Linked DNA regions of Homo sapiens: region 1 is linked to region 2. Evidence: fine-mapped expression QTL. A gene starts in region 2. The other region holds a variant in brackets. All regions are shown on one strand. Distances are from middle to middle. Region 1 overlaps LOC101927845 (a long non-coding RNA gene). Region 2 holds the start of KHDRBS3 (KH RNA binding domain containing, signal transduction associated 3).

What was found. PIP is the estimated chance that this variant, and not a neighbour inherited with it, causes the effect. A credible set is the group of variants that fine-mapping cannot tell apart.
Region 1: its variant is the best candidate, but not a certain one, in a credible set for the expression of KHDRBS3 in lung (TOPMed, PIP 0.78).

Annotation. Positions count from the first base shown.
Region 1 is chr8:134,856,115-134,860,505 of GRCh38, forward strand. The region is part of intron 1 of LOC101927845 (a long non-coding RNA gene); the gene reads left to right. Among named protein-coding and RNA genes, the nearest start is that of NCRNA00250, 20 kb to the left of the region's middle. The variant T/C (reference allele first, on the strand shown) is at 1,977.
Region 2 is chr8:135,455,615-135,460,005 of GRCh38, forward strand. KHDRBS3 (KH RNA binding domain containing, signal transduction associated 3) reads left to right here and starts at 1,842. Exons shown (of 9, transcript NM_006558.3): 1 at 1,842-2,340. The coding sequence starts at 2,253. It overlaps LOC101927872 (a long non-coding RNA gene), which reads right to left and starts at 2,361. Exons shown (of 4, transcript XR_002956731.2): 1 at 2,268-2,361. RefSeq lists a silencer at 1,714-2,013.

The sequences.
Region 1 (4,391 bases), 600 kb before region 2:
TGAGAAGCATGAAGGGTTATGAGTTAGGTATCATGCTGGGCACAGTGAAGGAAGGAAACAGAATATTTGTTCTCAAAAATCTCAAAGGCCAGAGACAAACCAGCCAGGGCTGACTTACAAACATAAGAAGGGAAGTGAGGGATAAGGCCTCAGTGTAGCAGTCCCTGCTTTTTTGTCTGTCTGTTGTAGAGGGAAGTACGTAAGTAGTAGTCATGATTCAATCACACAGCCACATGCTTGGATGCCAGGTTCTTAAAACCTCACCATCGTGACTAATCCAAAGCTGGGCACCTAACCCTAATGGGGTCAATCAGTTCAGTCTTCTCCAGAATTTTGTATTTATTCTGGATGGCAAATGAACTTACTCCAGGCTGCAGATCATTCCTTTATCTTAAATTTGATTTTTTGGTTAATAGGAGTATCATATACACCTTGAAAGTGGTACCAGATCCTTTGCTGCCTGCCCTACCTCTGTTCCTCCTTGAGGGGAAATGTGAATTTATTGGTTGGAGCCTGAAGTACAGATTAGGCTATACTCACGAGTGCCACTGGGTGGGTTCATTTTGTGTTGAAGGGTAGAGACTGGTTCTCATGTCCCTCTTCACACTTCCCTTTTGCAACTAGAGCTGGTTGGGTAAACTGAGCTTTGCCTGACCCTCTGAGACAGAGGGTCTGAGACTCTTCTCCCCACTCTGTTTCTCTCTCTTGTGTCCTCTTGCTGCAGTGGTGGAAATTGCCTACATCTGCACTGTCTGCTATGGAAGCCACTAGTTGTGTGCGGCTTTTGAGTACTTGAAATGTGGCTAATGTGACTGAAGACTTGAATTTTCAATTGTATCTAATTCTAATTAATTTAAGCCCAAATCTAAATAACTTCATGTAGCTAATAGCTCCTGTATTGGACAGCACAACTGTGCCAGATAGAAAAGGCTGGCAGGCAACCTCATTCACAAATTTTATCATTTCCATTTAGGGGAGCAGTATTAATGAAGCCGCTTCTAACATAGTGCCAGCCCACATTTTTGCACCTTAAATATGGAGGAGAGAGTGAGAAGAGTCAAAATTGGATTTTTTTGGCCGGGGCGGGGGTAGGGGCGAGAGAGGCTACACTTAGCCTCTGGTCTAATCTGTGTGTTTTAATTCACCTGTACCAGGGAAGATTGAATTCAGGTGCCAGTTGCTGGCTTACCTAATAACGAAAAGGTTTTTTGTTCCTTTGTTTCCTATATGACCACTGTTTCTTGTAGATCTATCTTTTAGGACTTCTTTACTCAGGAAGGGTAATTGATGGGGCAGGGTTCAGGCATTTCCATGGGCTCCAGAAATACTACCATGGCTTAGATGATGTCACTCCCTCTCAAGTGTGGCTTTATCAAATGCGATGGGACAAGGCAGGCTGAGGAACAAACGTGTCCCAGGAGTGCTGGCCCAGCTTGGGAGTTTGAATTCCAGGTGCACCACCTATTGATTGCATGACGTTGGACAAGTTACTTTACCTTGATAAGACTCAGTAATGTATTTATTATAGGTTGAGGGGTGGGGTGTCTTTTGTCTTTGCACCAAAGTGATCTCCAGGTGAGATGACTCCAATTTGTCCAAGGGCCATCCTCTGGAGAAGACTGCAGGTGAGAGGTGTTAGCATTGTTAGCTACAACTACCTCCCAATTTCTAGATCCCTCACCTTATTTCTTTCATCCATTTCTGCCGATCTTGACTTCAAAAATTTCCCCAGATACGATTTCTTATGCTTTCCCCAGTACCAGTTATTTTCTATGATACCAATTATTTGATTTAAAAAGTGATTAACACTCCCTAAAATTGTTGTTTGAGTTTCCCTCCTAGACATGAGCTCCTTAAGGGCAGGAATCTTGTTTCTTATCTTCACGTCTGTATTCCAGTATGGAGAAATGTGCAGTGAGGCTCCATCATGAACCTGGTTTTCCTGGATCCTGATGTAGTCCGTACTCAGCTGGGGG[T/C]GCTCAGGACCTGTTTGGAATTAAGCAGACCCAACAGCCAATCATGGCTCTGCTGCTAACTAGCTGAGACTGGGTAGATGAGTAGGTGGCTCCAAGTCTGTTTTCTTACCTGTGGAATGCAGATAGATGACAGCTACTCAACAGTGGGGTCATAAGAACGGAATGTCATAAGGTATGTACAGTACTTAGTAAGGTGCCTGGCACATGGCAGACACTTAATAAGTGGAGTTATAACCATAATTAAACATTTATCACAGCTTGCTTTTGTTAGAAATGAATACTAACATGTTGTCCCTCATTTGACTGTTAGCTCTTTGAAAGCAGTAACTTTGTTTTTTTCCTTTTGGTATCCTTGTTTATCCTTTCCATCCCCAAGCACTCAGCAAAGAGCTTGGGACATGGAGGGGATTCGTAAATACTTATTGGGTTGAAGTCTTAACACATGACAATTCCTGTAATAGGTGGAAAATCGAGTGGAAATAGGGTGAGACAGTTCAGGGAGATGATGTAAAAAGACCTCATGACAGTAGCATCTCCTTTGAAAAATATAGGAATGAACTTATCTATATACTGCATTCCTCAAGAGGAATTTTTGTAAATATACTTAAATGCCTTACGTTCCCTAAAGGGGACTATTTCAAACAGACGCAAATACTTGACTGTGTCTTCTAAAGGACTTGTTTACTCAATTCGAGAGATGAAGAGAGAGGCAGGTGGCTGAGATTTGAAGGCAGGGCTGCCAAGAATTCCATTCTGCGGCTGATGAAATGCAGCACTTTCTTTGATGGATGGTTCTTACTTTCTTTTACACAAGAGAGGAAGTTATTTTCAGGGCAGGTATTGTGTCCTTTTCAATTTTGCACCCCCACACCTAGCTCAGTGTTCAAGTGGTATAAGATATTTGATGTTAGGTATTTGTTTAATTTTAATTTATGAGTATTGGATCAGTTGGATTGTGTTTCTTCATCTTTGTTTTCATATCCTAAGAAAGGGTTCTCACCCTAGCTGCACATGTGAGTCCTCCAGGGAGCTTTTGAGAATACTAGTGCTCAAATCTGCTCTGCAGATGTTCTGACTTACCTGATCTAGGGGAGAACCTGAGCAGGTGATGGTCAGTAGCACCCCGGTGATGCCGCTGGGGGGTCCGATGTTGGGATCCACTGGTGAGGACGAGAGTCAGTAGAACTGGGTTCCGGTCCGTGTCACCCACTTGTTATGTGACCTGGGGCAATGACTCTTTCTCTGGGTCTTGGCTTTTTCATCTGTAAAATGAGGGCATTGGATTAGAACAGGCAGTTTTAATTTTTCTAGTGCAGAAGCCCATTAAGAATGGGTTTTCCTTCTCTCCAGGAAAATAAACATACTTATGCAAAATTTGCATATATTTCAAGGAATTGATGAAATTTCCTGTATTGGTTAGGATTCTTTTCTTCACCAGTAACAGAGACCCAGCTCAAATTGGCACCTACCAAAAAGCAATGTAATAGTTCATGGTCCTCATAAATCCTGGAGTAGAAGTGGCCTAGACATGCTGAACCAGGAGCTCAAAGATGCCAGGAGGAACTTAGGTCTATATCTTGCCTCTGCTCTCTGAGTTTTTGGCTTTCTTTTTAGGAAGGGTCTCTCCCAGTGATGGCAGAGATGTCCATCAGCAGCACAGGCTGGTATTCTACCCACCTAGCAACCCCAATAGAAAAAGCACAACCTTTTTTTATGGTCCTGGTAAATGTCTGGCCCAGCCCCAACACAACCCCTGTGGGTAGAGGGTTGGATGCTCGGCTGGCCCCATGCTTGTCACTATTACATGGAGTGGGTGGGCTCCAGTTGATCTTGGTGGAGAGCAGAATGGGGGTGGTTTCCCAAAAGAAAATTAGGCCATTGTTACCATAAGACAGAGCAATAAATACTGGGAAGGCAAGGATACAGATAACATCTTACCTTGGAAGGCTGCACATCTATGGAACCCATAGAGGTGCATGGCCCCAGGTTGAAAACATCTGAACCCACGAGCTCTGAAGTTGCTCTTAGTAATGTACAATGACAGATAAGCATGGTGTTCTTATTTTTGAAAGCTTTTGGATATATATATGACATTTATATATAATATATAATTATATATAATATCAATATATATAATATTATACATAATATTTTAAAATTTATATGTAACAAGGGCTATTGATTTTCCTTCCATGTTTAATTTTATATTCCACTCACTTCTGGAGTGCCAGTTATGTGCTAGATCTGTTAACCCCATTTGTTTTGATGGCAGTAATGAAGCTTGGCAGGGGCTGGAAATTTGCAAAAACCCCACAGAGAGGAAGTATAAGAGCTGGGATTCAAGCACAGGCCTCCCAATCCACACACAATACTGCTTCCAAGAAAATACTACCTGGTATCCTGTCCTGTTTTTTT
Region 2 (4,391 bases):
TCACTCAGTTGGCCAGGCCGGGGCGAAGCACCACGACCAGCAGTGAGGAGTCCACAGATGGGTGTCTGCCCAGCATCCCTGGAGTTACAGCTGAAGGGAAGGCGAGGGAGGCTCAGAAGGCCCAGAGGACAGCCTTGCAGCCGGAAAAAACCCAAAGCAAAGATCAGCTCAGCATTTCCGATAGGCAGAGTGCTGTTTTGGGTATTTCATTATGAGTTAACATATTTATTCTCATGAACTTCTTATGAAATAAGTTTGGTTGTCATCTCCACTTGACGGATGAGGACCCTGAGGTGAAGAAACTTGCCCAAGGTCACAGCTAGTGAGCAGCAGATCCATGATTCCAAATCCAGGCTGTTTAACCCCAGAGGCTTTGCTTTTAACTGTGCCATTTTTCTGCTTCTTGCAAGTTGAGACTGAAGAGAGCCATGAAGAAGACTCTTACTGGGGACTCTGAAATGACACCTTAGCCGGGGGAGGAGTGGAGCCTTGAGAGTGAGGGCAGTTGAGTACTCGGGTCTGGGACTTAGAGCTTCCAAGATTTCTACCACCTCCCACTCCCCTCGGGTTTGTAAAGCTGCCTCCATTTGCATTGGGAGTGCGGGGGGGCTGCCTGGGGGACTGTGGCGATTGTCCTCAGGCTATTGGCTGAGAGTGGTATGCCACTGACTTATTCCTCCAAGAGACATTTCCAGTACCCTCCATCCCTGCCCCCTGTACTACACACTGGTGACCTTCCCCCTCAAAAACAAAACTCAAACTCTGTCCCTGATGCTCATGGTCTACTGAAAACAGAATTACAGCTGTCTGTGAATGACCTCTGACCAAGCTGGGGGGACACAGAGAAGGGACTTGTGACTTGCTTTGCCAGGGAGGTCCTGAGAGGCTGTCCAGGGAAGGTGACATTGAGGCCGGGACTTGAGCTGGCTGTTTGAAGGCAGGAAAAATGGCAGGGCAAGGACTGGAGTCCTTCGCCTTCCTGGGGGACGTTTATTCCACATGCCTCGGGAAATCTGAAATGGCCTTGGAGAGCATTTGCTGGGGGTTGGGGGTGGGCGGAAGGGGACAGAGAGCATTGCCACCGACAGGCGGGGCGTCCCAGGGCCTCTCCCCAGGAGCGGATGAGCTCAGACGCGGCTCACTCAGCTGTGTCCAGGCACAGCCGGTTTATGACCTAAGAGAATGACAACCCAGGAGCAAGTCGGGATGACAAAGACGCCCAGAAGGGCACGCGCTTTTATGTAACCGACCTCTGAGCTGGCGGATCTCAGGAGGTTGGCGCTCTGAGCTCAGGCGCGGAGAAAGGACGGCGCCCCTGCCTTACTCTCTTATAAGTACGAGGGGACAGCAACGCGACATAACTTAGAGAAGTCCAGGAAGCTTTAGAGAGCAGGGCGGTCCCGCTGCTATTCCTCAGAGCGCGACTGGGGCGAACTGGGGCGCCCTTCCCAGCTCCAGCTCGGCCCTTGTCCCCTCTTCCCAGGATCACTCGCTGGGTGACCTTGGGCGAGCCACTTGACTTCTCTGAGCCCCAGTTTCCCAGTCCGTGCATCTGAAAGGCTGTAATAGCGTCGTGGGGCTCCCCACTCGGCCCTCAGGGCCAAAGGTGGGCGCCGGACACGCGGGAGGGGCCCTTGGACGCACCCCCTCTCGCAAACGCCCGGTTAGTCCCGGCGGACTCGCAGTGGAGAGCGGCCCCAGGAGGCGGCGGGCGGCGGGGCGGTGGGCGCCAGTGCGCAGGCGCGGCGCGGCAGGGCGGGGCGGCGGGCGCGGGGCGGGGCGGGGCGGAGCCGGGCGGGGCGGGGCCGGCGGCAGGCGCTGGGCGCTCGGCGCGGTGGCTCAGAGTGCGCGGGGCGGCGCGCGGCGTGCAGGTCGCAGCTGTGGCTCGGGTGCTGGCAGGTGCTGGCGGGACTGGCGGGGATCGCCGTGGACTGCCTCAGGGGCGCCGCAGCCCGCTCGGCCCGAGGGCCCGCCTAACCGCGCCGCCCGCGCCCGCTCCTCCTCGGCCCGCGCCCGGAGCGCGGGGGCCGCCGGCGCTGGGTACTCGGCGGCCACCGGGGATCGGGGCTGAGCGGTCGGTTCCCGCCCCCGTGCCGCCGCCGCCGCCTTCCGGCCGACCGCCCGGCTTGGCCGCTGCTGCCGCGTCTGGCCCCCGGGTCCCCGCCGCTGGGGGCGCGGGCGGGGTCGGGGGTTGCCGGGCGCCGCCCCCCGTGCGCCTGGAGTCCACATCCCGGGCCCGGCGGCCGGCGAGCATGGAGGAGAAGTACCTGCCCGAGCTGATGGCGGAGAAGGACTCCCTGGACCCCTCCTTCACGCACGCCCTGCGCCTGGTGAACCAAGGTGAGGCGCCGGCCGTTAACTGCCGGCCGGCGGCGGTTGGGGGCCGGGTGGAAACGCGGGGGCCCAGGGGGCCCCTCCGTGCCCTCTGCTGTCAGCGGACGCGGCGGAGACGGAGGCCCGGGTGGCCCCCGGGGTCGTTTGCACGGGGACCTGGGAGGCTGTGGGACACCTAGGGGAAGACCCTGATGTGAATTTTGGGGACTTGGAAGGAGAAGGCTGGGGCGCATGGGTGAGACTTGAAGGAAATCTTTGGGGACTCGGGCACACCCAGGGGAAACTTCTGGGTGGGGGACAGCGACCATCTGGGGGCTTCGTTGGGAACGAGGTTGAATTATGTCATGGAAGGGGAGCGTGTTGGACTCGGGGAAGTAGGGCGTTTGGTTTGTCTAAGGTACTGGAGAAAAAGCTGGAGGAAAATGGAAGGACTTGAGGGACTCAAATGCAGAAGAGGTGAAGGGAACAGGTGCTTGCATTGTTAGCGAAGTTTGGGGACCTTGGAAGAGGGTTGGGGTCAGACCCCAGCACCTGAGAGGAGAGGAGCTCCGTGGTCCCAGGGGAGGAGCCCAGTTCCCCCTCCCAGCCCTTTGTCTCTCCTGTGTCCAGGCTCCAACAGCCCTGGCGGGGCAGTCAGCCCTCCCAGGGGATGGGCAGCCCATGCCAAGCCTTGCAGGCTGGCCCTTGGAGAAGTCAGTAGGGGAGAAGAGGCCGGCAAAAGAGCACCGTTCCGGAGGGCGTTGGGTTGGGTGACCCTCATTGGTGGCTGGCTTGAGGTTCGGAATAGTGGTGAAGGGAGTCCTTGCCATTTTCACACGACTCCAGCCAGCTCAGGGTGTGAAAGATCCTAGGAAGTACTGCGGGTCAGGGATACAGAGATTTCTGGAGGCACGCCTACCCGGGACAGTGTTCCCCTGGCTTTTTCCTCCTGTGGCTTCCTGAATCATCTGCTGGCATGCACGGTAAATTAAGCCTTCCTTCCTGGGAGCAGTCTCCTACTTTTCCTGGAATATGTGTTTCAGATGAAGATGGGTGTGGGTGCCACTGGTCTGTCTTTTCTCTGGGAAATGGCAGCAACATGATCTGGTCAGATCTGTTACCTTTTGCAGGAATTACTGTGCACTGACAGTCTGTGGTTCCCTAGATGAATCGGATCTGCTGCTCTTAGTGCTCGCCCTGGCTTTTTTATTGTTGGAAGTGAAAGATGAGGCAGACATATTCTATTTGTATATAGATACCTATATTTTAAAACAGTGACCTCCAGTTTTTGCCTGTTTCAACCAGTTCTTCAGAGTAGAGTGTGTGTGTGGTTGACCGATGGTGGAGGAGAGACTCTTTACTGTCTCCAAGAATTTAAGAATATTTGAATTGTTGAACAGAAATAGACTTATGGAGCTCCCTCATTTTATTTTAATTGCAGGCTTATTTTTATTTCTTTAATAAAATGGGCTTGTGAAAAAGTGAATGGGCATGCATTCCTAAATAAAAGAAAAAAAATTAAGTTTTATTTCTATGCCCTCTGAACAGTTCTGCAGTTGAGTTTGTACTCCTGTGCCTGATGATTTACATGTATCTTTTATTGCCTGCTGGGCTGTCATCTCTGTGAAAGAAATTTCTTCATACATTGCATGAGATCCGTGGCATTGGAAATATTCTGGACTGTGGACTCAAGTGCATTTTTCCTAATAAAGTAGCTGAATCAAAGTTAGGTTGTACTCAATTAAGGAACAGTTAAACTGAAAGTACAGTGCGTTATCTTATTTTAAAAGTCAGAATTATTTTCTCTGCCGTGTTGCCATAGTATTGTGTTGCTAAAACGTCCAAAATTCTTTTGGATTCTGTGTTTTTACCAGTGTTAATGGCTTCCAGTTACTTGAAACAGATATTTACTGGGGAAATGTTGCCATTTAGTGTTTTTTAGGTATTCAACTTGATAAACTTACTTTTCATAGAAGTAATTCTTATAAGAAGTATATTTCTCACATGTGAAGGAAGGAGGAGGTGCTGCTCAGAATCTTGTCTTACTGTTAGTTTAGATGACTTCAGACTGAAACATT